Homo sapiens: one gene and its partners. The protein of the gene in region 2 interacts with the protein of the main gene of each other region in a pairwise test. Each region holds a gene or a part of one and is shown on either strand. Other genes may lie near its edges.

Evidence for each region.
Region 1: the proteins of TCF7L2 (region 2) and INTS11 interact in binary tests that used the Homo sapiens proteins (3 or more experiments, as listed by UniProt).
Region 3: the proteins of TCF7L2 (region 2) and PLEKHB1 interact in binary tests that used the Homo sapiens proteins (3 or more experiments, as listed by UniProt).
Region 4: the proteins of TCF7L2 (region 2) and RUNX3 interact in binary tests that used the Homo sapiens proteins (3 or more experiments, as listed by UniProt).

Annotation. Positions count from the first base shown.
Region 1 is NC_000001.11:1,311,095-1,314,687, reverse strand, and holds the end of INTS11 (integrator complex subunit 11), read left to right. Parts: intron 1-322; coding exon 323-387; intron 388-766; coding exon 767-956; intron 957-1,095; coding exon 1,096-1,179; intron 1,180-1,563; coding exon 1,564-1,653; intron 1,654-1,738; coding exon 1,739-1,901; intron 1,902-1,987; coding exon 1,988-2,095; intron 2,096-2,121; exon of another isoform or gene 2,122-2,186; coding exon 2,187-2,248; intron 2,249-2,319; coding exon 2,320-2,462; intron 2,463-2,540; coding exon 2,541-2,670; intron 2,671-2,763; coding exon 2,764-2,829; 3' UTR 2,830-3,027; downstream 3,028-3,593. Other genes in the region: PUSL1 (tRNA pseudouridine synthase-like 1), read right to left, coding at 3,028-3,358.
Region 2 is NC_000010.11:113,142,241-113,149,272, reverse strand, and holds part of TCF7L2 (transcription factor 7-like 2), read right to left. Parts: intron 5,351-7,032; coding exon 5,248-5,350; intron 3,263-5,247; coding exon 3,176-3,262; intron 1-3,175. UniProt on the Homo sapiens protein: Participates in the Wnt signaling pathway and modulates MYC expression by binding to its promoter in a sequence-specific manner. Acts as a repressor in the absence of CTNNB1, and as activator in its presence.
Region 3 is NC_000011.10:73,656,577-73,663,347, forward strand, and holds the end of PLEKHB1 (pleckstrin homology domain-containing family B member 1), read left to right. Parts: intron 1-4,176; coding exon 4,177-4,276; intron 4,277-4,889; coding exon 4,890-5,026; 3' UTR 5,027-6,243; downstream 6,244-6,771.
Region 4 is NC_000001.11:24,927,263-24,935,233, forward strand, and holds the start of RUNX3 (runt-related transcription factor 3), read right to left. Parts: upstream 3,015-7,971; 5' UTR 2,607-3,014; coding exon 2,325-2,606; intron 469-2,324; coding exon 312-468; intron 1-311. UniProt on the Homo sapiens protein: Forms the heterodimeric complex core-binding factor (CBF) with CBFB.

The DNA of each region.
Region 1 (3,593 bases), on a different chromosome or scaffold from region 2:
TTGCTCAACATTGAGGAGGAAAACTCAGAGACCCTTTCCTAGGGAGCCCCTTTTCCCTCCTACCTCAGGTGCGGACGAAGCCCTGGCCAGGCTCCTTCTGTCTCTCATGCAGCTCCCTTCTGTCTCTCATGCGGCTCCCTCCTGTCTCTCATACGGCTCCCTTCTGTCTCTGGAGAGCGGCTGGGACGGGACTGGGAGCAGATGAGAGGCTAAGGTCCCTATGAGGCCGCAGCTCTTGGGCACCTGGCCGTGCCCTCACTGGACGCTGCCTGCTGTGTCGAGGGGCCATGTGCCCAGGGCTCCTGCCTTGTGTCCCCCTCAGGTGCTGATACCTGTGTTCGCGCTGGGCCGCGCCCAGGAGCTCTGCATCCTCCTGGAGACCTTCTGGTAGGTGCCGCCAGGACGGCTCTTTAAGGAGCCCCTGGCCCGGCCTGAACACAGTCCAGTTGGTGGGCAGCCCTGTCCAGCGTAGCGGTGGCATCTTGGCCCTGCTTGCTGCTGTCCTGGGGGGCCGCTCGTGTGCTGTGTGACCCCAGGAAGCCTGTGACATCCCGTCAGCGCCACCGTGTGCGGCTCTTGTAGGGGTTCCTGGTTCTCCGCTGAGCCCGGCTGCTGCAGGGCTTAATGGGACAAGTGGTCGCGACTGGACTCAACCTGGCCCGTGCGTGGGCTGTGCAGACACGGGTGTTGGGGGTGACCCGGCCGAGTCCTGCCCTGCAGCATTCTCCCCTGTGGCCACTGTGCTGACTGGGCCGGTGGTCCCCAGGGAGCGCATGAACCTGAAGGTGCCCATCTACTTCTCCACGGGGCTGACCGAGAAGGCCAACCACTACTACAAGCTGTTCATCCCCTGGACCAACCAGAAGATCCGCAAGACTTTCGTGCAGAGGAACATGTTTGAGTTCAAGCACATCAAGGCCTTCGACCGGGCTTTTGCTGACAACCCAGGACCGATGGTGAGGCCCGCGGCAGGGCCGGCCAGCACATCCACACCCGTCGGTCTCCTGTCTTCCGCAGGTGTCTGGGCTTGGGCCTGCAGTGGGGGTGGGGGCATCTGCTGCCCTGACCCCCCACCTGGCCCTGTGTGTCCTGTAGGTTGTGTTTGCCACGCCAGGAATGCTGCACGCTGGGCAGTCCCTGCAGATCTTCCGGAAATGGGCCGGAAACGAAAAGAACATGGTGAGGGCATGGTGAGGTGTGGGAATCTGGAAGCTGGAGGCCGACGGGTTGTCCTTCCACCCATGCTGTCTCTGAGCTCTCACTGGCTTGGCCTCGTGCTGGCCAAGGGACGTGGCTGCTGCTGCTGGGGAACGGGGGCGATGTCCGCCTGGAGCTGCTCAGTCTCTGTGACACAGCTTGTCCACCTCGGGCAGAACAGCCCCAGCCCAGCCCTGGACAGTCTTGTGCCAAAACCTGAGCCCTTTGGAGTCTGCAGCTAGGCTTGGTCGGGCGCCGCTGGCAGGTGGAAACAGCTTCCAGGGGTTCAGGCGGGGGCATCCCGGGCAAGGCCTTGAGGTGCCAAGGCTGGAGTTCCCTGGCTGTGAGCTCTGTGCCTGCCCCCAGGTCATCATGCCCGGCTACTGCGTGCAGGGCACCGTCGGCCACAAGATCCTCAGCGGGCAGCGGAAGCTCGAGATGGAGGGGCGGCAGGTGGTGAGTCTCGACCCCGCACTGGGCTGGCAGGGCCGAGGGGCACCTCCTGGTGGTAACCACTGTCCACGCCCCGTGGCCTCTGTAGCTGGAGGTCAAGATGCAGGTGGAGTACATGTCATTCAGCGCACACGCGGACGCCAAGGGCATCATGCAGCTGGTGGGCCAGGCAGAGCCGGAGAGCGTGCTGCTGGTGCATGGCGAGGCCAAGAAGATGGAGTTCCTGAAGCAGAAGATCGAGCAGGAGCTCCGTAGGCAGCCGGGCGGGCGGCGTGGGGCCCACCTCGGGTCAGCACGGGCAGCCTGGGCTGAGGCTCTCTCTTCCCCCGGGGTCCAGGGGTCAACTGCTACATGCCGGCCAATGGCGAGACGGTGACGCTGCCCACAAGCCCCAGCATCCCCGTAGGCATCTCGCTGGGGCTGCTGAAGCGGGAGATGGCGCAGGGTATGCGGGCTGGGCAGGGCAGGGCAGGGTGCTCGGGGCAGGCGGCTGGGAGCGGCCCTCACATTGATGGCTCCTGCCACCTCCTCCGCAGGGCTGCTCCCTGAGGCCAAGAAGCCTCGGCTCCTGCACGGCACCCTGATCATGAAGGACAGCGTGAGTGCCAGGACGGTCTCTGGAGGGGGGAGGGCCGCTGCTGCGCTCACTGACCTGTCCCTGCCCCACAGAACTTCCGGCTGGTGTCCTCAGAGCAAGCCCTCAAAGAGCTGGGTCTGGCTGAGCACCAGCTGCGCTTCACCTGCCGCGTGCACCTGCATGACACACGCAAGGAGCAGGAGACGGCATTGCGCGTCTACAGCCACCTCAAGAGGTGGGCGCCCGGCCCCGCCCCCCCCCCACTCCCTTGGGCCCTGGAGGCCAGGCAGGGTCTCACCGAGCCTCCCCACAGCGTCCTGAAGGACCACTGTGTGCAGCACCTCCCAGACGGCTCTGTGACTGTGGAGTCCGTCCTCCTCCAGGCCGCCGCCCCTTCTGAGGACCCAGGCACCAAGGTGCTGCTGGTCTCCTGGACCTACCAGGTAAGGGGTGACCCCCACCCCACCGCGGTCAACACAGGTATCAACATTCCTCCCTGTCCTGCACCACCCACAATGCTTTTGCCTCTGCCCTAGGACGAGGAGCTGGGGAGCTTCCTCACATCTCTGCTGAAGAAGGGCCTCCCCCAGGCCCCCAGCTGAGGCCGGCAACTCACCCAGCCGCCACCTCTGCCCTCTCCCAGCTGGACAGACCCTGGGCCTGCACTTCAGGACTGTGGGTGCCCTGGGTGAACAGACCCTGCAGGTCCCATCCCTGGGGACAGAGGCCTTGTGTCACCTGCCTGCCCAGGCAGCTGTTTGCAGCTGAAGAAACAAACTGGTCTCCAGGCTGTCTTGCCTTTATTCCTGGTTAGGGCAGGTGGTCCTAGACAGCAGTTTCCAGTAAAAGCTGAACAAAAGACTACTTGGTACTCTCTTCTTGGTGTACATGGCTGTGTCCTGCACTGTGCCCCATCCCGCCTGGGACAGAGACGGGCATCCAGGGTGCTGGGACCCGGGCAGGGAGGCTACTGTGGAGACCAGGCAGCAGTGCTGTGGGCCCCAAGCAGCTGTGACTGCCCTGGCTTGACCAGCACAGGGTTGGGCCTGGTGTGGCCTAACTTTGGCTTGAGTGTCCAGGGTCATCCGTGGCTCCCGAACTGTGGCCCCTGCAGGGTGCAGGAGGCAGCACCTGTGGACGGACCAGACCCTGCGTCAGCCTGGGGCAAGACCGGCCCAGCACCCTCCCCACCGCTGAGACCACTCCCATGACCAGGGAGTGGGCCAGCCCAGGACGGGCTACGGGCTGGCCTGAGGGACTGCAGCCCTGGGCGGGGGGCTGCTTCACCCCCAGTTGCTGCCGTCAGTGGCCCCTGGCCCCCCACCCCATGCCTCGGCCACAGTAGTCACTGGGCACATGACAGGAG
Region 2 (7,032 bases):
TCTTCATCCCCTTCCTCTCAAAATAATGTGAAAAACAAAAAAAGCAAAACCCCTTGGGAGACACTTGGGCTCCAAGTGACACCCTGTTCCTTCCCACTGCTCGAAGGCCTCAGAGGAAACAGAAGTTAAGAACATGTGTTCTTGGAAGCCCTTGGGTGAAGTGGTGGGTGGCAGCTTTTACTGTGAATTTTGAAGGCCTGACATTCCTCAAATACATATGTTCCCTTCCTGCAGAATGAGAATATGTGTACAGACGTGAGAGGGAGAGGGAGGGGGAGAGAGAAAAACACTGCATGTGTGAGTGTGTGTGTGTACGTGTGTGTACATACACCAAATACCACGGGAAGGCACCACAATCTGAGTACATTTTGGGGTGCAGACAAACTTCTAATGCAGCCATGAAGAAGGCACATTTCTAAGTTCCCATACCTACGCGTATATTCCCATATCTGAAAAATGTTCAGCAAAGAAAGAGACCATGTGTGAACATGGATGTGGGCTGTATACACATACCTTCGCTTAAGAAATTCCTTTCTGCAGACTACTATTTCATGAAATGCAATAAACACCCTAAAAATTCTAAGCAGCTCATTATATACCCCCGTCTGCTTTCATGGCTCCAAGCCAGAATATAATGATGAACCTTAACTTGTTAAGAACAACTAATTTTTGTTTCTGGCTGTCTCAGGGGCTTCTCTCTTACTCACTCTCACTTTACTTCACTGTTGACACGTTTCTGTTAACCGGATGTCATCTGCCGGCCTTGATTTTATGCACAAGCAGTAGGATGCATTTTCCTGTGCAACAATCCTGCTTTGAGTTGCATTAGGTTTGTCATTATTCTCTCATTTTCCCCCTTGCACTTGTAACATTTCATCTCTTCCTGCCTTATTTTTTGTGAGCCACGGTGCACCCACATTATGGTTTATACATGATCTCGCTCCCTTTGAAGCCGGCAGATTTCAGAGCCGGCTCTCGTCAGGAGAAGAGCCTTGCACCAATTTAGCAGGCTGAGGGCCCGGAGCTCCAACATCTCAATCTAAAGGGGGTCACAGGGTGGCACAAGTGAGTGTCAGCAAGAGCTGTTTAATTGCCAATCTAGGCTTCTCCATGGTGTTTAAAGTATAATGACCCATCACTTAATTCTGAGAAGTCCTGGCCCCACTGCTGAATAGAATGAATATCAAAGGGTGTTCTGGAACAGGGCAAGCTGCCTACATTTGCTATAACTGCCATAAGTATAATAGACCTATACTTCTGTCGCCCCATTATCACAATAATGTATTTAATTTGCTGTATATGCTTTTTAACTAGCTATCTTTCATTTGGCCTACCTGGGGAGTCGGCCGCCTCTCCCCGCACCTTGAGGCCCTAACCTTTCTTCCTGACGTTCCCTGCCTTTCCTCCACCCCCATGCCCACCTATAATTCATCGACTAACCTCCTAATGATAATTCAATCGATCAGCTTAACCCCAATCCCTATCCTACAATTACTTTACCACTGTTAACCTCCAGAACGCACCAAATAAACAAACATGAAAAATAACCAGGTGTAATATACAAATGCTGGGAAGGTGGGAAGATGAGCTGTGGAGTATAAGCTGCTACACTAATAGAATGACATGTAGCCGTGGTCCCTGGGTGCTCTCCACCTGGGAGACCCCCTACTCATTCCCATGCTTTGCGAGGCTGTGATGACACTATTTAATAAGTGTTACGCCTCCTCTTCTCTCTAGGCCAGAGAACACACGAGCGTTTTCCTACCTAACTAATACTGGCATGGATTTTGAAATTTTGATGATATATCGCAGGTAGAAAATGGATCTCTTCAACTATGATATCCACGGCATAGTTACCGATGCTAGATATGCCACGGTTTGTTTTTCTTAATGAATGTAACTCTCTATCACTGCTAAAGTTACTGTTTTGTAAGTAGGAAAAGCAGCATCTTGACCTGTCTTTCCAGGCCCTTCTCTGGTCTTGGCTTCCCATGTTGGCCACAGGGACTGGGGAAAGAAGCTGGGGACAGCACCCCTGCCATGTAACGCATGCTAATTTCATTATGTGCCATCATCAGAATGGGTTGGTGATTTCAGACCATCAGCAAAGTCTAAACCTCCACCGATTTAATTAACTTGACTGAAAATCAGATGAACAGAAAATAAAACTATCATTAGAAACAATTAGCGACTAAAACATACTGCTGCCAACCAGTTTGTAAATAAACTAGCAGTCACTGAAAAATTAGCCAGAATTAATCAGAGGGAGGAAAAGAAGAACATGGGGATAGGAATGTATCTTGTAAATATGTTTCTACGCTGAAATATAAATATATATGAATGTACAGCACACACACACATGTTTTTTTTTAACTTTCAAAGACTTAGAGCTGCACAGACCACTATGATATGCACCAGCCACGTGTGGCTATTGAATATTTGAAATGTGGCCAGTCTAAACTGAGAAGTGCTGTGCGTATAAGATACACATCAGATTTTGTACCAAAGCTCAGCACAAAAAAGAACATAACATCTTATTAATAGTTGTTGTCCAGGAATAGCATGTTAAAATGATAATATTTTGGCTATATTGCATTGAATAAAAACATGTCATTAAAAATAACTTTATCTTTTTTTTAAAAAAAAAAAAACAAAAACTTTTTTAAAAACACGGCTACTACGAAATTTAAAATTCCCTCTGTGGCTCACACTATATTTCTATTGGACAGTGCTACCTTCGAGGGGAGGAGGCGGATGCTTTCTTGTTGACTTGCAATCAGAGTCTGAGCTTTGAGAACACCAGTAATCTTTTTTCGAACTCTTCTTGGTATAATAATAAAACTACCTTCACCGCTACCTTTCTTGCTGAGGACAGGACAACAGAGAAATGGCATTTTTAAAAGCTTCTGTCCTGTTTCTCCCTTACCTTCTTAATTCATTAAAATACATTGTTCAACTGAGTGACTCAAAAATTTTACCCAGAAAGACATCATTTACCTTGGAATTTCAGGGCAATTTTTCAGGATTTTCTGGGAGTACAGCCTAATGCCACATTGGCTTTACACTAATAGAACTACATGTAGCTGTGGTCCCTGGGTGGCTTGGTGGCCATCTAGAGAACTTCTTGAGAAGTCACACATGGCCTTGGATGAAGGCCCCGGTTCTTGGAACTCACCTGGACATGGAAGCATTGACGGTCAGAGCTGTGGGGTAGGGGTGTCTGAATCCTCCTGTCGTGATTGGGTACACTGGTTGACCTTGCCTACAAAGAAGGGGTACAAAGTAAGAGACTTGAAACAAGGGTGGGGGTGGGGACAAGAAAAAGAAGAAAAGGGAAAAGTTCTCTCTGCACAGTAAGCTTTATTCTCATTTGATCAGAACAAAAATCTTGGGGATTGTACAGGAAGGATCAAAGGGAAGAAACACAGAACAATTTGAATGCCATAAATCTGATAGGAATGGCTAATTAAATTTTATAACCTCTGCTTATGTCAATAGAGACCCTCTCCCCAAGCTGAAACTAGGTGTTTTGTTGTAATAATTAAAGGCGAAGTCTCGCTTGCTTTAATGGAGCCATCACACTAATTGAGGGCTACACATCCAAAGGAAAACAATAATGAATGTAAATTTATACCAAAATAAAGTACAGTGAATCAAAGGACTTCAGTTGCGCTTTGGGCCTCTTTCGGTATTTAGATCTCGGTGAGAAAACATTAAATTAACAGAGCTTAATTTGTAGCCTTTTGTCAAATTAACAAGTGTTGACAAGAGTTACCGGGGGGAGAGTCCCCAAGAAGAATTGTGGGTAACCAATAGACAATCACACCTCATTACAATAATTAAAAAATACAGCAACATGCAAAATAGCATCCTCATGAAAGACACACAACTTTTTCTGACAGAGGGTTGTCTGAGTTGGCTATTCCTTTTTATCTAGCCTTCAAATATCTCCCCATCAGCCGAATGGGGCAAATGATCACTGAGAACTATTCGAGGGTTGGCCCCATCTATTTAGAAGAAATGGGTCACAAGCTCATGTTCATGTCTACCGTCCCAATAAAAATAAGAAGAGACAGAGAAACAGAAACTATACCCAGGGTTGGTATTTGGTACAGCTACTACATAATGCAATCTGTTTTTTATTAAAAAAAAAAAAAACAGCATAGAATCTATCTAACTAGAGAAATACGGGTAGAATTGTGGGGTAAGCCACTCCAAAATTTTATCTTCCTTAAGGCTTTGAAAGGCCATCTTCCCTAAGACTCAAACCTGAGTTTTACCAGGATTTATTCCTTTTAGCATTCAATGTATTGTCCTGTGTTGTTCAGAGTACAGATCACTGGTAAGGAGAAATACATCCACAGAAACAATCACGAAACACATATTACACACATGCTCATGCAAAAATATACATACACACAACCTGCCACAGTATGCTAATGCATCAAAGGCCTTTCTACTCTGAATTTAAAACACAGTTTTTTTAAGTTGCAAAAGTTAGTCAAATAATCTGGGCACTGCCAGGAGCTAGGATTGATGCTTACGAAGGCCCCACATGCTGCAGTGACGGTTCCAAATGCCCCATTCCCACCGTTCACAGTTAGGTAAAACATTCAACGTGCAAAGACTCTCAGAGAGATGCTGATTCAGTCCCATGGAGCTTCTCAACAGACAAAACTTTCCACTGTTGTTGTCAACCTTGGGAGTAATGTTCAGGATGAGGTGGGGGGTCCTGGAATCATACAAGAACATGCCCTAATCCCAACCCTGGATTTCAAAACAAGGCCGTTCTTGTTCCTGCTTCTGTGCCCCAAAATATGTAACACCTAAAATGGAGGACTCGACAGCCTCAACCCAATGACATGACTGCAGTTTGGGCAGCCAACAGCAGAAGGGTCATGACCAGCTTCATTGGGTGGAAGTTCCAGTAGTCTTCTGCAATTCCCAAAGGAACTGCAGGGCACCTCTGTCCACAGAGCCTCTGGGGACCATGGTCGCGGAATGCTAAGTGCCAGTAACATAAGCCACCTGAATGGCTGTGGATTTGCCTGTATTCCCACAGGACACCTCAGCAACACCTTTTCTGTGCCCTCCCGCAGCCCCCTCCCCAACCCTGGCTTCTAACACACACACATACACACACACACACACACACACACACACACACACACAGACACACACACAGAATAAATAATAAACATGCCCATGTAAGAAACAAAAAGGAAATTAAAAAATGGAACTCCTTACTGTGGTACTAACCATCCTAGCGGATGGGGGATTTGTCCTACGGTGCCAGGCGATAGTGGGTAATACGGGGATATATCTGGAGGGTGCGGAGGCCGTGGGATTCCTGAGGGAAGAAGCAGCATTTTAGGTACAAAGGAGGGAGAGAAGGAAAGAGCAATCCATTAGGGGATGGGAACAGGGAAAGGAGGAAGAGACGCATCTCTTCTGGAATCCTAGCACAAGGTTCATTCATGATTATAAATCCTGAGTTGTTGGTAGGTTTCATCTCATTTTCCCTCAGCCTCAGTTTGAAAAATTAGTTTATCTCCTTCTAAATGGACTGGTATACTGAGTAGACTCAAGATATGCCATCTTGGGTATTTGTGCCTCATGTGACTGGTGTGATTGTTTCAAGTTTAAAAGAAACAACATCAAAAAGGCTCAGCACCTGGTGGAGAATGAAGCAATGGTAATCCCTGTTGCTCTTACAACTCTGGCCCTTCACCCTGCGGAGTTTCATGCCTTACCTGCACAAGAGCTACTCCTCTGATTTCTAACACACTTTTTGAGCTGTGGCATTTGAAAAGTTACTACCCTTGCCTTTTTTCAAAAATGGTGACTCCTCTAAAATGTCTCTGCCTCTATTTGGATGAGCTGGAGAAACTGATCAAATGCCATCTGGCATCTTATCTAAGGCAGAGTCAGAGCTGAACAGACAAGGAGGTGTTGGAGGCTTGTGTACTCCATTCTGGAACTTCATCCGCTAGAGGACAGAGTCGTCTGTGGGGATTAAGCCCACCTGCTGAATGGGCACCGCGTGCGTCGCAGGGGCTAAGAGCTTCACAAGGCACACATGAGCGGATTCTGCAAGTACGTGCCACCGCACATCTGCCAGTTCCACAGGAGCACATCCTGTAGTCCACTCTGACAGAGAGGAATTGATGTATGCCATTGAAGTGGGAGGCAAAAGGCACAATACCACAGAATTAAAACAGAGTAATGGAGGGAACGGGCTGCATGTTCGTGGACGAAAACGACTTCATTTTTTAAAAAATTCATTCAGGAAGCTTTTAATCTGTAAATTAAGTCTCCCTGGGTGACATTTTCATGCAGACATTGCTTTCTCTCTATTACAAAAACCAAACAGATTAGCTGGGCTTGGACCCTACATCGAGCCATTTGCACACTTGAAAGAATGTTCGCAGAGGAAAAGTAAACAGTCCACAGACGTTAATCATATGTTTTACGATAACCATTTAAAAGCTATTCCCTGTACTACCATTATTTAAATGAGACGTTGACGCTGCCATTCACTGGTGGAGCCTGGGGCCGGCTGGAGGAGGCCACCAGGCATCCAAGCGCCAGGCTCAGTCCTGCACCAGCACAAAGGGGCTCAGAGACCAGTAAAACCCAGCTCATGTGTGGCTTCGTTCAGGGGCAGTGAAGGCCGCCTAACCAGGCAGCCTACCTACCCCAACACTACCAATCCCCTCTAACAAAGTGATGTGCAATCACCACTTTAAACCCATCCTTCCAATTACTGAGCTAGGAAGGGGAAATCCTACCAACACACTGGGTAGCCTGAAAGACACACACTAACCTTACCTGTTCTCCCAAGACCACCCCACCAGGCTGCTGGGGCTGCCTGCCTGATTTAGATCTTGTTGGAGGAGAGCTACAAGTAACCCCACCTTCCCTCCCTCTCCCCTTTGGGAAAAAAGCAGTCAATGAACAACTGGGATAAAAAGGGGATGCTGGGCTGGGTGTGGTGGCTCATGCCTGTAATCCCAGCACTTTGGGAGGCCG
Region 3 (6,771 bases), on a different chromosome or scaffold from region 2:
CTCACCCTCAATGTTTCTTGAAGGCAGGATCTGGCCTGAATCTTTTCTCTGTCCCCAGAACTCAGCACAGGGCCTGGCATGGGGTGGGTGGCAGGAGGGGGCTTGAGTGAGAGTACCTGTGATCTTATAGTCAACTCTGAGCTCATCTTACACAGTGGTGCTCAGTGTGGCTATGTATCAGGATTGTTTAGGAACTTACAAGCACTAATAACAAGTATTCATGTTCCACCTCTGGATGTTTTAATCTGGCATGGGGCCTAGGCCTAGGAAACCTGTAGTTTAAACCTGTCTCCTGGCCAGGCCTGGTGGCTGACACCTATAATCCCAGAACTTTGGGAGGCTGAGGCGGGCAGGTTGCAAGGTCAGGAGTTCAAGACCTGCCTAGCCAACATGGTGAAACCCCATCTCTACTAAAAGTACAAAAATTAGCAAGACATGGTGTAATCTCAGATACTCAGGAGGCTGAGGCAGGAGAATGGCTTGAACTCAGGAGGCGGACGTGGTTGCAGTGAACCAAGATCACCCCACTGCACTCCAGCCTGGGCAACAGAGTAAGACTCCATCTCAAAAAAAAAAATTGTCTCCTGATGACTCTGATGTGCAGAATCACTAAGCCTAGAAGTGCCTGGGCCACCAAATTGTATAGATGTGGCACTGTTAGATCCTCAGTGGCTTGGAGAGGTTACCTAACTTGATCAGGGTCACTCAACTCATCAATGGCAGGTCTGGGACTCCCAGCCCATCGTTCTGAGGTATTTTCCATGCCCAAACTAGGATGCAAGTTTGTTTAAAGTGGGGATGTCAAAAACTAGGATTTAACAGACTGTAAACCTAATAACACAACAGCTCAGCTAAGGGGAGTCATTTGCATGTGACCCCCTGATTGGTCAACACTGGTTGTACCCACAAAGTAGCTGGGCCTCTGGAGAGGGAGAGGCAGGTTCAAACCCTCAGGTTCTGCCCATGGGTCTCTGGGCTGTCCCTATTTGTTGCCAGGTGACTTATAGGAGTTTACTTCTGGGCCTCCCAGACGTGGAGAGTAAAAACAGGTGCCCTCGAGGGATATGGGGTGCTCCACCCTCTCCAGGGCCTCCCAAGGCCACTGGCTCACTGTGTAGCAGCAGGGCAAGGTGGAGGCTGTGGACCTCAACTTCCCCACCAATAAAATTGGACCTGAGAGCTTAGATCCCTCCAACCCCTTTTGGGCCTGGAGCCTGGATCTTGGCACTGCCTACCAGAAATCCCTATTGGATCACTGATGGGGAGGGAGCACCGTAGAGTTCACTGACTTACGACATTGCTTGTCTGAGCCTCTTGCATTGTCTTGGGACTATATGTTTTCCCTGACTTGAAACTGAACTCAGAGTTGGGCAACCTTAGTTCCAGTCTGGCCCTGTATTTGATTCACTGGAATGAATTCAATAAACATTTATTAGGTACCTGCCATGTTCCAGTCAGATCTGATTAGACCCAGTCTCTGCCCTCAAAGGCATCTCCAAGTCTGATGGGAGAGACACAGGGAAACAACGTGAAGACAGCATGATCGGTGCTGTGATGCAGGGACATCCAAGGGCTGTGAGTGTCCAGATGGGACCCCAACAGAACCTGAGGTTCAGGGAGAGTGATGCTTGAGTTGAGTCTGAAAGACAGGTTGAATGAGGTGAGAAGCATATCCCTAGCAAAGGAAAATGGCATGGAGATTTGAAATCACAAGGTGTGCTTGGAGACCTTCCCCTTACCACCAAACTTCTTGAAAGAGATGTCATGACATGGGGATTGCATCCTTCACCTCTCAGCCTTTCTTCAACCCTCCATAGCTTGGCTTTTCCTACTCAGCAACTCCTCTGAAAAGTTTTTTCAAGGTCACTCACAACTTCCAAGTTGCTAAAACCAGTGGCCTATTATCTTGGAATTGGCCAAAAGAATGGGCAGAAGAACACATTTAGAAGATAAAATCACGAGACCTGGTGGCTGATGTGTGGAAAGCAGATGTGTGAAGACAAGGGCAACAACCTGCTTTCTTTCCTTCTTTCTTTTTCTTTCTTTCTTTCTTTTTTTGAGACAGGATCTCCCTCTGTTGCCCAGGCTGGAGTGCAGTGGTGCAAACACTGCTCACTGCAGCCTCGATCTCCTGGGCTCAAGTGATCCTTCTGCCTCAGTTTCCCAAATAGCTGGGCCCACGGGCATGCATCACCACACTCAGCTAATTTTTTAATTTTTTGTAGAGACAGGTTCTTGCCATGTTGCCCAGACTGGTCTTGAACTCCTGCATTCAAGCAATCCTCCCGCCTCAGCCTCCCAAAGTGCTGGGATTACAGGCATAAGCCGCTGTGCCTAGCCTTTCTTGATTTGAGTGCATGGTGATGGCATGTACTGAGAGAAGCATTTATGGGGCTGGGTACTTTGGGAGGCCAAGGCGGGCAGATCACCTGAGGTCAGGAGTTCAAGACCAGCCTGGCGAACATGGTGAAACCCTGTCTCTACTAAAAATACAGAAAAATTAGCCAGGCGTGGTGGCAGGAACCTGTAATCTCAGTTACCTGGGAGGCTGAGGCAGGAGAATCGCTTGAACCCGGGAGGCGGAGGTTGCAGTGAGCTGATACCATGCCATTGCACTCCAGCCTGGACAACAAGAATGAAACTCTGTCTCAAAAAAAAAAAAAAGATTTATGGGAAAAGCAACAGTTTTAGCAGATGGAGAAATGTTGCAATCATCTTGAGATGAGTGGAGTTTGAGACACCTGGACTTCTAAGGGGAGCTGGACTGTTCAGGTGTGAATCCCAGTTAGAGAGAGATACAGGGTGGAATGGGGCTAAGAGGAAAGATCCAGAAGAGAAGGGGATCCTGACCCCTCTCCAGGTCTGCTCCCCCATGGGTAAAATGAGGGGTTTGGAGTTTCCATTTAATTCAGCACATAGTTCTTGGTTCCTGGTATGCACTTGGCCCTGCTGGTGACACAAACAAATCAGAGTCCTTGTCTACAAGCAGCTCACATTTGGGCTGCAAGAAAGGCCAGGAGAAAGGATAGCAACAAGAGGCACAAGCAAGATCCACAGAATTCAGGGAAAAAAAAAATTCTTCCTGAGACCAGGAGAGCTTCCTGGAGTGGAGTGGGTGACCGTTGAGCTAGGCTTTGAAGGGTTGGCAGAAATCTAATGGGAGAGAGGGGAGGGCAGGGAATGCATTCCAGAGAGAACACTGACCATTCTCTGAGCCTCAGTCCCCAACCCTATGGTCATGTGGAGCTAATACCTGCTTTAAGGATTAGAGGTGGTGTAACACACGTGATCACTTCCTTCAGGACCTGGTACATAGTAGGTGCTCAATAATCGTTACAGCCTAGTGCAGCCTAACAATTTTGGGTCAATGATGGACCACATATACAAAGGTGGTTCCATAAGATTATAATGGAGCTGAAAATTTCCTATCACCTAGTGATGTTGTAGCCATGATAATGTCGTAGGGCAATGCATTACATTTTCTACATTTATATATGATTAGTTAGATAACAAATACCATTGTGTTACAATTGCCTACAGTATTCAGGGCAGTAGCCTGCTGAACAGGTTTGTTGGCTTGGAGCAATAGGATATACCATATACTCTAGGTGTGTGCCACCTAGGTTTGTTTGTAAGTACACTCTATGATATTCACATAACTAAAATTGCCTAAGGACGCATTTCTCAGACTGTATCCCTGTTGTTTAAAAGACGCATAACTGTATTTTAGTTACTTCTCATCCCTATCCTTCCTTTCCCTTCCTTCCTCCCCAACCCCTGTTTATTTCCTGGGCCTGGGGCTTGGCCATGTTCCCCTCCTTGTGACTAGTAGAGCTGGGTCTTTCAAGTGGCATTATTGTAGAGCTGCTAGCAAATATTAGACTACCTATAAGGAGAAATTGGGAGCCATAGAGAATTTTTTGAGCTAGGTGGGAGGCCAGAGTTGGAGAATGGGTGTCACTGGGAGCTGGATGTAGGGCAGAAGTTTTAGAGGACCGTGGACCTTGTGGGGAGGGCAGGGCCTTTCTCCAAGAGCTTGCTAGTGGCTGGAGGCCCATTTCTAAACTTGGGGAGGTGGCTCCATGGATCCCAGAGAGGCCTGTGCCAGGCGTGGGGGTAGGGGACCAAATCCGGGCCAGGGAGTTCCTGGGCACCTGACATGGTTGGATTCCCCAGGTGCGCGTCTACAGCCCGTACCAAGACTACTACGAGGTGGTGCCCCCCAATGCACACGAGGCCACGTATGTCCGCAGCTACTACGGACCGCCCTACGCAGGTAAGTCTCCAGCGTGCCCCGGGGCTTGCCTCGATCCAGCACCGATTCAGCGCCAGGCCCAGCCCACGGTCCGTAAGTCCGGACCAGGCTTCATCCTTTTAGCGTGCACGGATTTTCCCAGGCAGAACTCTCCGCAAGCCCCTCTCCATCCTGAGACTGGGAGAGCTCTGGAACCAGCGTTCGTCTCGAGCTGACCTCACCCTTCTGGGATGGCTCCTCAGCCCTGCGGTCGGCAATACCCATTCCTGAGCCGGTAGCGGCCCCTGGTGGCTACTGCGGGAATGCTGCCTCCTCCCCGCTCTGGGGCCTGGCGGTTGGGAATGCCCATCGTTAGGCGCCTGGTGGTTGTGCTTAGCGATCTCAGGGTTTCCTCGCTGCTCCGCCCTAGCCTGCCGTAGCGGACCCGTAGGTTCCGGGACATCCGTAGCCGATCCAAGGCCTGGGAGCCGTAGGGTGGAGCTCTTCCCGCGTCTAGATCTGTTCTTTGACTGGGGAGCAGGAGAGTGGGTTCGGCGCCTTACACTGGGTTGGGCTGGAGTGATGCAGGAAGGGTACGAAGATCACTCTACTCCCTCCTAAGTCGCTGATCCTCATGGGCTGTCTCCCTCTGCAGGCCCTGGCGTGACGCACGTGATAGTGCGGGAGGATCCCTGCTACAGCGCCGGCGCCCCTCTGGCCATGGGCATGCTTGCGGGAGCCGCCACTGGGGCGGCGCTGGGCTCGCTCATGTGGTCGCCCTGCTGGTTCTGAGCCCTGGGACTCGGAGCACTGACCCCTGCGCTTGGATTGCTAGACTCCTCTTCCTCCTGGACCCCATCCTCTACCATCCAAGCCCTGTCCCACTTTGGCCCTATCCTCTCCATTAGCTCCTTCCGGGTTTGGACCATTCCCCCCACTCCCTACCCTTAATCCCCACATGGGAAGAAGCTATCATCACAGGTACAAACATCGCTTGAAGTCTTCACATCTACCACTAGACACCCCCAAAATCTGTTATAGACATTTATGGATACATTTCCTCTAAACACAACAGGGCACAGCAAATACGACTTCATTTGGCTTCGAGTTCCCCAGGCGCTGTAGACACAACATGAATCGGGCTCTCTGCTCTCTCCTTAGGGAGCTCGAGTCCTGGTGGGGAGAACAGGAGTAAACAAGGACTTGACAAAGCTGAAGAGTTATCAGTCCTTTGACAAGGACAGGTGGGGCAGGGAGCAAGACAGGTAGGCTGGAAGAACAGTTATTGGCAAGTATGCAGAGCCGTGAACGTCATGGCATGTCCAAGGAATTAAATGGGAGTTCATTTGGGCTGGGGTGGAGGCTGGGATCAGACCGTGGTGGGCCTTCAAGCTAAGGAGCTTCCTAGGTGAAAGGGGAGATGTGAGCCTTCTCTGGAGGGAAGTTTCATGATTGCATCTATAATGAATATATTGCCTGTTTTGTGAATACTGACACATGTCCATACCTAAAACACTCCTGAGTCAAGTCCCATCCTTCCCACAAACAGCTTCCTGGCTGGTACCCATGATAACAATTGAGCTGAACCTGGGGACCCCTGGTTGGGGAACAGGTGAGTTCTATTTGAGACTTCCAGCCCTAGAAAGCTGCCTCCGTCCAGAAATGCCTCTCACACCAGGAGCTCGGCCCTCTCTTTGTAGCTGTGACTGTCACCCTCTCAGGCTTTGTCTCATCCTTCATTCTGAATAAGATGGCAGTGTTCTCCTCTGGGGCCTGATCCACCTCTACACCAGCCCAGGAAGCCCCATCTGTGCCTGCCCTCAGGTGGTCCACCAGTCTCCCCCTTTGGTTCCCTTCCAGTCTCTTCCCCCTTTCTATCCCAATCACCAATAGAAATGCTAACATCCCTGCCTGGTAGCCAGACTAGCCCACTAAAGCTCCCCTGTAAATGGGGGCTCCATTAGTTCTGCTGCCGAGACTAATAAAGATTTGGTTGGCTCTAGCAGTAACTGTGGCTTGCTTTGTTCCCCCAGAAGGCCCTGTTTCCCTCTCCATGATCCAGCAGCTACTAGTGCCTTCACTGGTCTAGTGAAAAAGAGTGTGGATTCTGAGATCAGTTGGAACTGGTGACAGCATATTAGCTGAGTCATTTGGGGCAAGTCACTTAACCTTTCTGGATTTTGTTTTCCCTACACTTAAGGTAGCTGGTTGAAGTTGACCATTCCTGAGGGCTCAAGAGGAGGGACTGCCTTGGAGTCTCTGTTGTCTGAGCTGATGGATGATCCAAGCCAGGTCCTGCCTGCTTTCTGAGAATCCTGTTCATGTTGGAGTCTTTTCCAGTAGGTTCCCATCCTTCTAGAGTTGAATCAATGAATTGTTCTCATAGAAAACCAGGTGGTCAGGAAAGGAAACACCATCATCCTGCATCAGGCTTCTTGGGGCTGTCAGATAGAAACTCCCTGTTCAAACTGATTTAAGCCAAAGGGAAAAGGTTAAGCCACATAACTGAGAAGTCCAAGAGCTGTGTGATCCAGGGG
Region 4 (7,971 bases), on a different chromosome or scaffold from region 2:
CCATCTCCTGCCAGCATTTTTTGTGAGACCAGGTGTGCTTAACCGGGAAAGAGGGGGTGGCATGAACGGTTTCAGGAGTTGGTAAACCCTAGAAACTGGGAGAAAATTGTCTTTTTCTGGCAAGAGACCATAACTTTCCTCACCTCCTCAAAGCGATCTGTAATATCCTACAGGATTACAAATTGCTGTTTTTAGACAGAGCTGCATCTGGAGACCTGTTTTTCGGGATTCTAAGGCCCCTCTTTCAACCTCCTTCCCTGCTGCCCCTGCCATTGCCAATGCTGAAATGGCGAGGCCTCCCTTCCACTTACCTCGCCCACTGCGGCCCACGAAGCGAAGGTCGTTGAACCTGGCCACCTGGTTCTTCATGACGGCCGAGGCATTGCGCAGCTCAGCGGAGTAGTTCTCGTCATTGCCTGCCATCACAGTCACCACCGTACCATCCGGCACGTCCCCCAATGCCACCACCTGAAGACACGGGGCGGGGGGATGCAGGGGGACAGCTTAGAAAGGAAGAGGGTGACCAGGGAAAGGAGGGGAGGGGCTGGGCTGGGCAGCTCCCCCAGGTCCCAGGCACACTGAGTATTTCTCCAATGCAGGGTGGAGAAGAGGCTTAAAAACAATAAAGACCTTCCCCCAAATATCACGAAAACAAGAAGATGGAATCTCGAGCTTCCACACCAAAATCCTAGATCAACTGCTTACATAAACTGTGTCCCAAGAAATCATCCTTTCAATGAAATCTAAGCCAGAGCTGTGAATCAGCTCAGTCACTATGATGTGGGGTGCAGTTCCCCTGTTGTCTTCGGCTGCAGCGAAAGAGGAATCAACATGCTCCTAGCAACGAAGTCTCCAAATGAGAAAGAGTAACAACAATAATAACAACAGGGCTGCTACCCCCACTCAATTTATGCAAGAGCTGTTTAGGGCATGAAATTTGGCCCTGAAATGTGGACCAGGCCCAGTTTATTGGCCTCTGCAGAGCCTAAATTCGTTATGCAGAGAAAATGCAGAATGCAAAACTCACTGGTGTTTTGAAAAAGGCCACCAGAAAACCCCTTTAAAGTGAGAGTGGGGCTTTTGATAATGGAAGGATGCACCTGCCGGGAATTGCAGGATGGGGGTGGCGATGTCCCCCTAAACACCATCTCCCCCAAATCCCCCACCCCCAGGAGCACGGAGAGGCGGATGCCTTTTGAAAAAGAATCAGACTTTAAACAGAGTCACAACTATTTAAACGTGGCCGCCGCGTGCAGGGACTGGGGATCCATATGGTAAAAATTTCAAGGAGAAAATGTTTGGGATCTGATTAAGAAGACCAGATTTCCTGTCAACATCCTGTCTTCTTTTAATTTCAAAGACTCCTTTTAAGCTCCAAGTGACAGTAAAACCTCCGATCTGACGATTAAAGTCACACGGGCCTCCCGCCCCTCCCGGCGAGATTTCCCCCACTGGTATTTTAAGATGTCACCCGGGAGACCTCAAAGAGCCACTCTTCCTTTTTTTCCCATTTAGAGTCGTCTTAATGGGAGCAGGGACGGCCTCAGCTTCCAGCCACCTCGGGCAGCACCACCCCCAGCCGCCGGCCCTTCCTGCCCTGCCCTTTTCTCACGGCAGCTGTGAGAGGTTTAGGGGAAAACCGAGGCGTTTTCGTTTCATCTCGCTGCCCCCTTAAAAAAATGAAAATGAAACAGTCGCCTACTCCCTGGCATAAAGAAAAAGGTCCTCTAAATGGCTGGGGGCTGCCAGGGTTAGGGGTCCCCCAATCTCAACTCGCCATTCGGGACGCATAATATCCCCGAGCAAACGTCTGGAGAGCAGTGCCCCGATCCCGGCCTAGCGCCGTCCGGTAAAATTTCGGAAGCCCGAGGGTGTGAGCAGGAAGCTTTTGCGAAGCGGCGCGGGAGGAGGGGTGCTGGAGGCGGAGGGTAGGCCCTTTCACCGTTCGCACCCCACCCGCGGTGTCCTTGCCCCTGTCCCGGGATCCTCTTCTCCGTTACCCGCAGGGCTGTATCTGAGCGATCCGGGTTAGGGGGGCGCAAAACCCCATCCGCCCATTTCCGCACCAACGTCTCTACGCAAGGCGCCCCAAAACCCAGGTGGAGCGGGGCAACCCCGTTAAAAGTCATTCCTGCAGGGCGCATCCAAAACGGAACGCCGAGGTCCCGGAGCCGAGCGCGCAGCCAGACTGAACCGGGTGCCCGGGTGTCGCCGCGGCGTCTCGGGCACCTCCCATCCCCACTGCTCCCGAGGCTCTGGCTCCCGCAGCTCAGACGCCCGGAGCCCCAGGGCCGGCGCCCTCCCGCCCCGGGTCCCGCACTCACCTTGAAGGCGACGGGCAGCGTCTTGTTGCAGCGCCAGTGCGAGGGCAGCACGGAGCAGAGGAAGTTGGGGCTGTCGGTGCGCACGAGCTCGCCTGCGTGGTCCGCCAGCACGTCCACCATCGAGCGCACCTCGGGCCGGGCGCGCCCTCCGGGCCCCACGGCCGCCTGCGCGCTCAGCGCGCCGCTGTTCTCGCCCATCTTGCCGCCGCCGCCGCCGCAGGGGAAGGCCGGGGAGGGAGGTGTGAAGCGGCGGCTGGTGCTTGGGTCTACGGGAATACGCATAACAGCGGCCGTCAGGGCGCCGGGCAGGCGGAGACGGCGCGGCTTCCCCCGGGGGCGGCCGGCGCGGGCGCCTCCTCGGCCGCCGCTGCCGCGAGAAGCGGGAAAGCAGAAGCGGCGGGGCCCGGGCCTCAGGGCGCAGGGGGCGGCGCCCGGCCACTACTCGCCAGGGCCCGCCCGCTGCGAGGCCTCGCTGGCCCGACGGCCGCCCGCAGCCTGCCCGGCTAGTCCCGCATCCTCGGCGCGCGGCCCCGCGTGCGGCCGCCCCTCGTGGCTGTCCCGGCTGCCTGGGCCGCGGCGGGGCCCGCGCGGGGCTGTGCCGCTGCCGCCGCCTCCCGCCCCGAAGCTCGCCCGCGGCCGCCCCGACTCCGCGGCCGCAGCCCCAGAACAAATCCTCCAGAATCAAGTGGCGGGGCCGCGGCCGCCCGCGCGGGGTTAGTACCCCCGGGGCCCGCGGGGCGGGGCTGGCGGAGCGACGCGTCGCACAGCCAATCGGCGGAGCCCCCATCGCGGGCACCTCGGTGGCGTTCGCGGGGAGGAACGGGGCCTGCCGGAGGCCGCCCAACGGGGAGGGGCGGAAGGCGCCACCCCGCGGAGGAGGCCCCAGTGCCACAGCCCAGGGCCCCCGAGAGCTCTGGGAGCCCGGGGCAAATGCTAGAAATTTGCTTAGAACGTCCGGGTCCCACGGAAGGCGCCCTTGCCGCCCTCTCTCGGGTCGTAGCTCCCTGACGCTGGGGCGCAACCCCTTCGCTCCTCCTCCCCGCTGGCCGCGGCCGGGCTTCCCCAGCTCTTGCTGCTTCGGGCCTGTGACTTCTGCAACCCCGGGCTGGGGGCCGCGGGGTCTCAGGGCCGGTGACGCCGCACTGGGAGCCGCCCCAAAGAGGTTACTCACCTCCCTCGTCCCGCACATTATTCTGACCCAAGAGCCTCCACCCCACACGGGATTTTGCGCGTCGTCCACGCCCGGCCGGCGGCCTTTGCTGCTCCCAGCCCTGCGCGGCTTTGGTCCCAGCCTCGGTGGCCCCTGTGCCAAACCGGGGACAGGCGGAAGGGAGTCTCCTAGGGACCCTAAGTAGCCTGGGGCCAACAACCCCTTTCCTCTCTGCTCTCCCCTCAAAACAAGTTTCAGGATCTTGCAGGCCTCGCGGCGTCGTTCTTCGTTGTGGCGGCCTGTGGCTCTTTGAAAAACACGACGAGGCCTGCAAAATGCGTTTTTCTTTTTTTCCTTTACGCATGTAACCACGGTCCTGCATCGTGAAACGGTACGCGCGTCGGTGGCAAAAGAAAAACAGCAGTGGCTGCAAAGCTAAGGGCCCTCGCTTTCAGAGGAGAGAATTTTCTTTCTCCATGCGGGTGGAAAGTGGCCTCTGCGGGTCCAACCCCACTTCTTCTTGGGCCCGTGCGCTCCGGCTGCGCCGCAGGGACCGCGGACAGCTTCGCCAAGGCACTGCCTGCCCGCCCGGCTCCGGGTCCCCGCTCCCACTCCCAGCCGCGTGGCCCAACCTCTCCTGGGCTTCACTGCAAATCACCCCTTCCTCTCCCGCCTCCTAAGTCTGTCGAGCAGACCTAGGGGCCGGCTACAGTTGGGAGGGCAACGGGAAAGATCAAGCCACAATCATTCCGAATTATCGCCCCAGACACCTCCCTAGACTCTGGGGAACGAACGCGTGCTGAGCCTCCCCGCCGCTTTGGAGACGGGGCTAGATTTTCGTTGCCTCCGGCTCTCGACAGGTGCAAAACAATGAATTCCAAGCCTCGGAAGCAAAGAAGCTTAGGATCCGACGGTGGCCGCAAGATCTCATCATGGATCTGACCCCTGCTCAGCGCGCGCCATTTCGTCGTTGCCAAACGAAATCAAGCCCCGCGTGCGCTCCAGGGGCGAAGGACTCTGGACTCACCCCGACCACCGGGAGAGCTGGCCCCTACCCACCTCGGGACCTCACAGCACGCCCTCAGGCCGTGTCGAAAGGAAGGACGGCAAAGGTCCCTTACTGAACCTTTTAAGAGAGCCTGCGCCTGGCAGTTGTCGATTGCGGACCCAGGCCCGCGCGCCCTCGGACGCGCTGGCACGAGCAGCAGAACTAGAGGAAAGCGAGTGATCCAGCCTGGGCGCTCCCACCTCCGGGAACGTCTCCGAGAAGGCGCAGCGCGTCGTGGCCAGGTAGGGCCCTGGCCGGGGGCGGGCAACACGTGCTGCCCTCGAGCAGGTTGCGGGACCATGACCCGCTGTTTCAGGTGGTGGTAAATTCCATTTGTCGAATGGTTTCGGTTTGCACCGTGCCCTTTGCTTGTTCCTCCGCCTGATTTCTCCCTCTCCGCTTACGATGGGTTCACAGACAAGTTTCCAGAGAATGAGGGACTCTTGTGGGCCCTGGCACCTGGCGCAGGGCCCGGCACGGCTCCGGCTCTCCGTAGGGCGCTGGCTCCCCGTGGGCACCAGATCCAAGGGACCAGGGCGGCGGGGGGAGGGGGGGCGGGTGCAGGCCCTTGGGTCCCCAGACCAAGGTCGCGGGGCCGCCTGGCAGGCACAGTGGCGGGAGCCGCCGCTAGTTGGCGCCCGCGCCCTGCCAGCCGCGGAGGTGCGGGCCCGGCCGGGCTACAGATGCGCGCCAGCTGCGGCCCCGGGTGCAGGCGCGGCGACCGCCCCCGAGGAGCTGCCCTTTCCTTGCCATCCATGCGGCCAGGTCTCAGACAAACCGATGGCTTTGTGTCAAACCAAGGCCGCCTTCCTCACCTCTGATAAGATGGACGCCTTCTGTCTTCGCGTTTTCAGGCACCCGGGGAAGACCCACAGAACAGGCTAGCTTGTTCCCAATTTCCACCTGCTTCCTCCCCATCCCGGACCGACAAAAATTGTCGTCTGTTTGATGGGAGGGAGAACTCCGACTCCCCCACCTGGGGCATGCAGACACCCTCGCCCTTCCCCAGTTGGCATGGACCGTCGTCTTTTCTCCCTCTTCCATCAGATCGATGGACAAACAGGCCAGTTTCTCCCCAGTGGCCCCCACCTAAGAGCACCCTAAGTTGTCCACAGCAGGGCTAGGAAGCAGAAGGTCAGGACACTCCCCTACCCTACCTTGACTTAGAGCTGGGTAAACCCAGAACCCATCCCCGGGCAAATAGAGCCAGCTCCTTTGCCCCAGGAAGGGGATTCGTCTCCCTCTGGCATTTAGGAGTGCTCTCTAAGTGCGTTCTTGGCAGTGAGGGTGCCGCCTTCCCAGGGCAGGTGTGATTCATGTGGACTCTGTGGCGCCTGGGCAGGGATCCCCAGGTATACCAGACAAGGGGCAGGTGTGCCCTGGGAAACCGCCTAAGAGGTCCATGGGCTATGGAAGGAGCTGGGGTCCACAGTCCCTCTGCCTGAGCGTGTCTTTTTCCCTCACCCACAGCGCTCTAGGGAAAGTTGCCTAAACCTCTCTGAGCCTCATTTCTTTCATTTGTAAAGTGGGGCACTCATAGTGGCCCTTCATAGAATTGTGTGTAAAGTGCTTAGCACAGGCCTGGCACATGGAGGGTGCTCCAGCCTCCGGGAGCCATCACTGTCATGAAAAAATAAGACCTCTCAATCCTTGCTGGGGGCCTTTGACCCACCCCTCCTCTCTCTGGGCCTCACACTTCCATCTGTGAAATGTCCAGTTCTCATATTCAAAGCTTACTAGGACTCCAAGCCAGTCCATGCTGTCCTGATCCCTCAATTCGCCCACAGGCTGCCTGGGGGAGGTAAGGACTGGCTGTGACCTACCTCCACGTGGAGTCAGCTCATAGCGGGGTTTCCAGCAACCATCACAGGGCGGCCAGAGCTGGGTCTCGATGATTGCCTGTCTGACCATTCCTCTCAGAACCTCACTTTCGCCCCCAGCCGGCCGCCCTCCTGTGGGCAGACCCTTTCCTGAGTAGCAACTGGGCCTCAGCGGACACTGCCAGGGACCCCGTTTCCTTCCCAGGAGGCCTCTGTTCCCCATATCCCGAATCACACAGGAGCCTAGTCCAGCGAAGAGAGCAGAGGACTCTCTTCTAGAACTGAAAATTTCTCCCAGCCTGGCCCTAAATCCCCTGTCCAGAGGGACCCGTGGTGAAACCTATCTCCTGCCCAGTGCCCTAGAACTCAAAGGGGACATTCATGCCCCTCACTGAGCCTCAATTTCCTCTTCTGTCAATGGAGGTCATTCTAACCACTCCATTTCACGGGAGGGGGATTAAGGATTCCCTCTAGGAGGGGAGGGGCATCATTGTGATTGATGATCGATTGTTTGAAGAAACAGAAAGAAAATGCTGCTGAGTAAACTAGGACTCATCTGCATCCTGATTTCAGATAATGATCTCTGAATATATAAGCGAGAAATGTTAATGAAAAATGGCAATATATCTGGGTTGAGGGGTTGTCTCCTGTAGGCCGGGGGTCCAGCTCCAGAGAGTCCAGCTCTGGGGTCATCTATCCTGGGCAGCCTCTCTGGAAGGATTCAGAATGTGTGGGAGCACAAATGTGCTTCTCAAATTACAGAGATCTTTCTTCCTTTTTGGAAAGTTCCAGACTTGGAGGGGAGGGAGAAGGAGCAAGGGAGAGCAGGGTGGTGAGGGTGTTAGGACCCAGATGCTGCCTGTGCGGTCTGAGACTTTTGCCTGGTGTCCACGCTCCCCTGAGCCTTGGTCCCCGAGGGTAAAATGGGAAGAACAGTAACAGCTGGGGGTGCTGAGGCTTTACCTTGTGCCAGGCGCCGCACATGGGCATTGCTCATGGTATTCAATCCCCACGGCGTCATATGTGGTAGGTGTTATGCCCATGTAAGCAAAGAGGAACGTTGTCCGAGGTCAGCCAGGCTAGAGAGGGCCAGACCCGGGTTAAAAGTCTGCTCTGGTTCAAAATGTGGGGCATGAACGCATCACCTGGCCAAGCATGTCAGCACTCTCCTCCTAGTGGCTGAGTAATGGGAAGAGCTAGCATCTAGATACAGAGGAAAGAGCTATTGTGATGGGGAGAGGGAGCTGGGTTTGGTAAATCCTGCTAAGCAGCCCTGGGCTTGGAAATCAGTAAACTCTTCAAATCTGCAGGGAGTCAGGAAGGACTTGCCAGGGTCATTCGGGAGGGTCCTGTGATAGTCAAGGTGCACCCACCACCTGCTCTCCTTTGGCCTCAGAACCAGTCTGCGAGGAGGCAGGACTGGCAGTAGTCCCCAGTTTACAGATGGGAACACTGAGGCCCAGAAAGGGGAAAGGGCGTGATCAGGATCTGGAATGAGCTCCAGCAAGGCCAGGAGCAAGCACCTCGAGGCAAAACGCAGTTGGACAGGACCTTTGCCTTGCAGGAGACTGCAGCCCAGTCCTGGGCCTCATACACTAGCACCCTGATGCCACATTCAGTGCCTCTCGC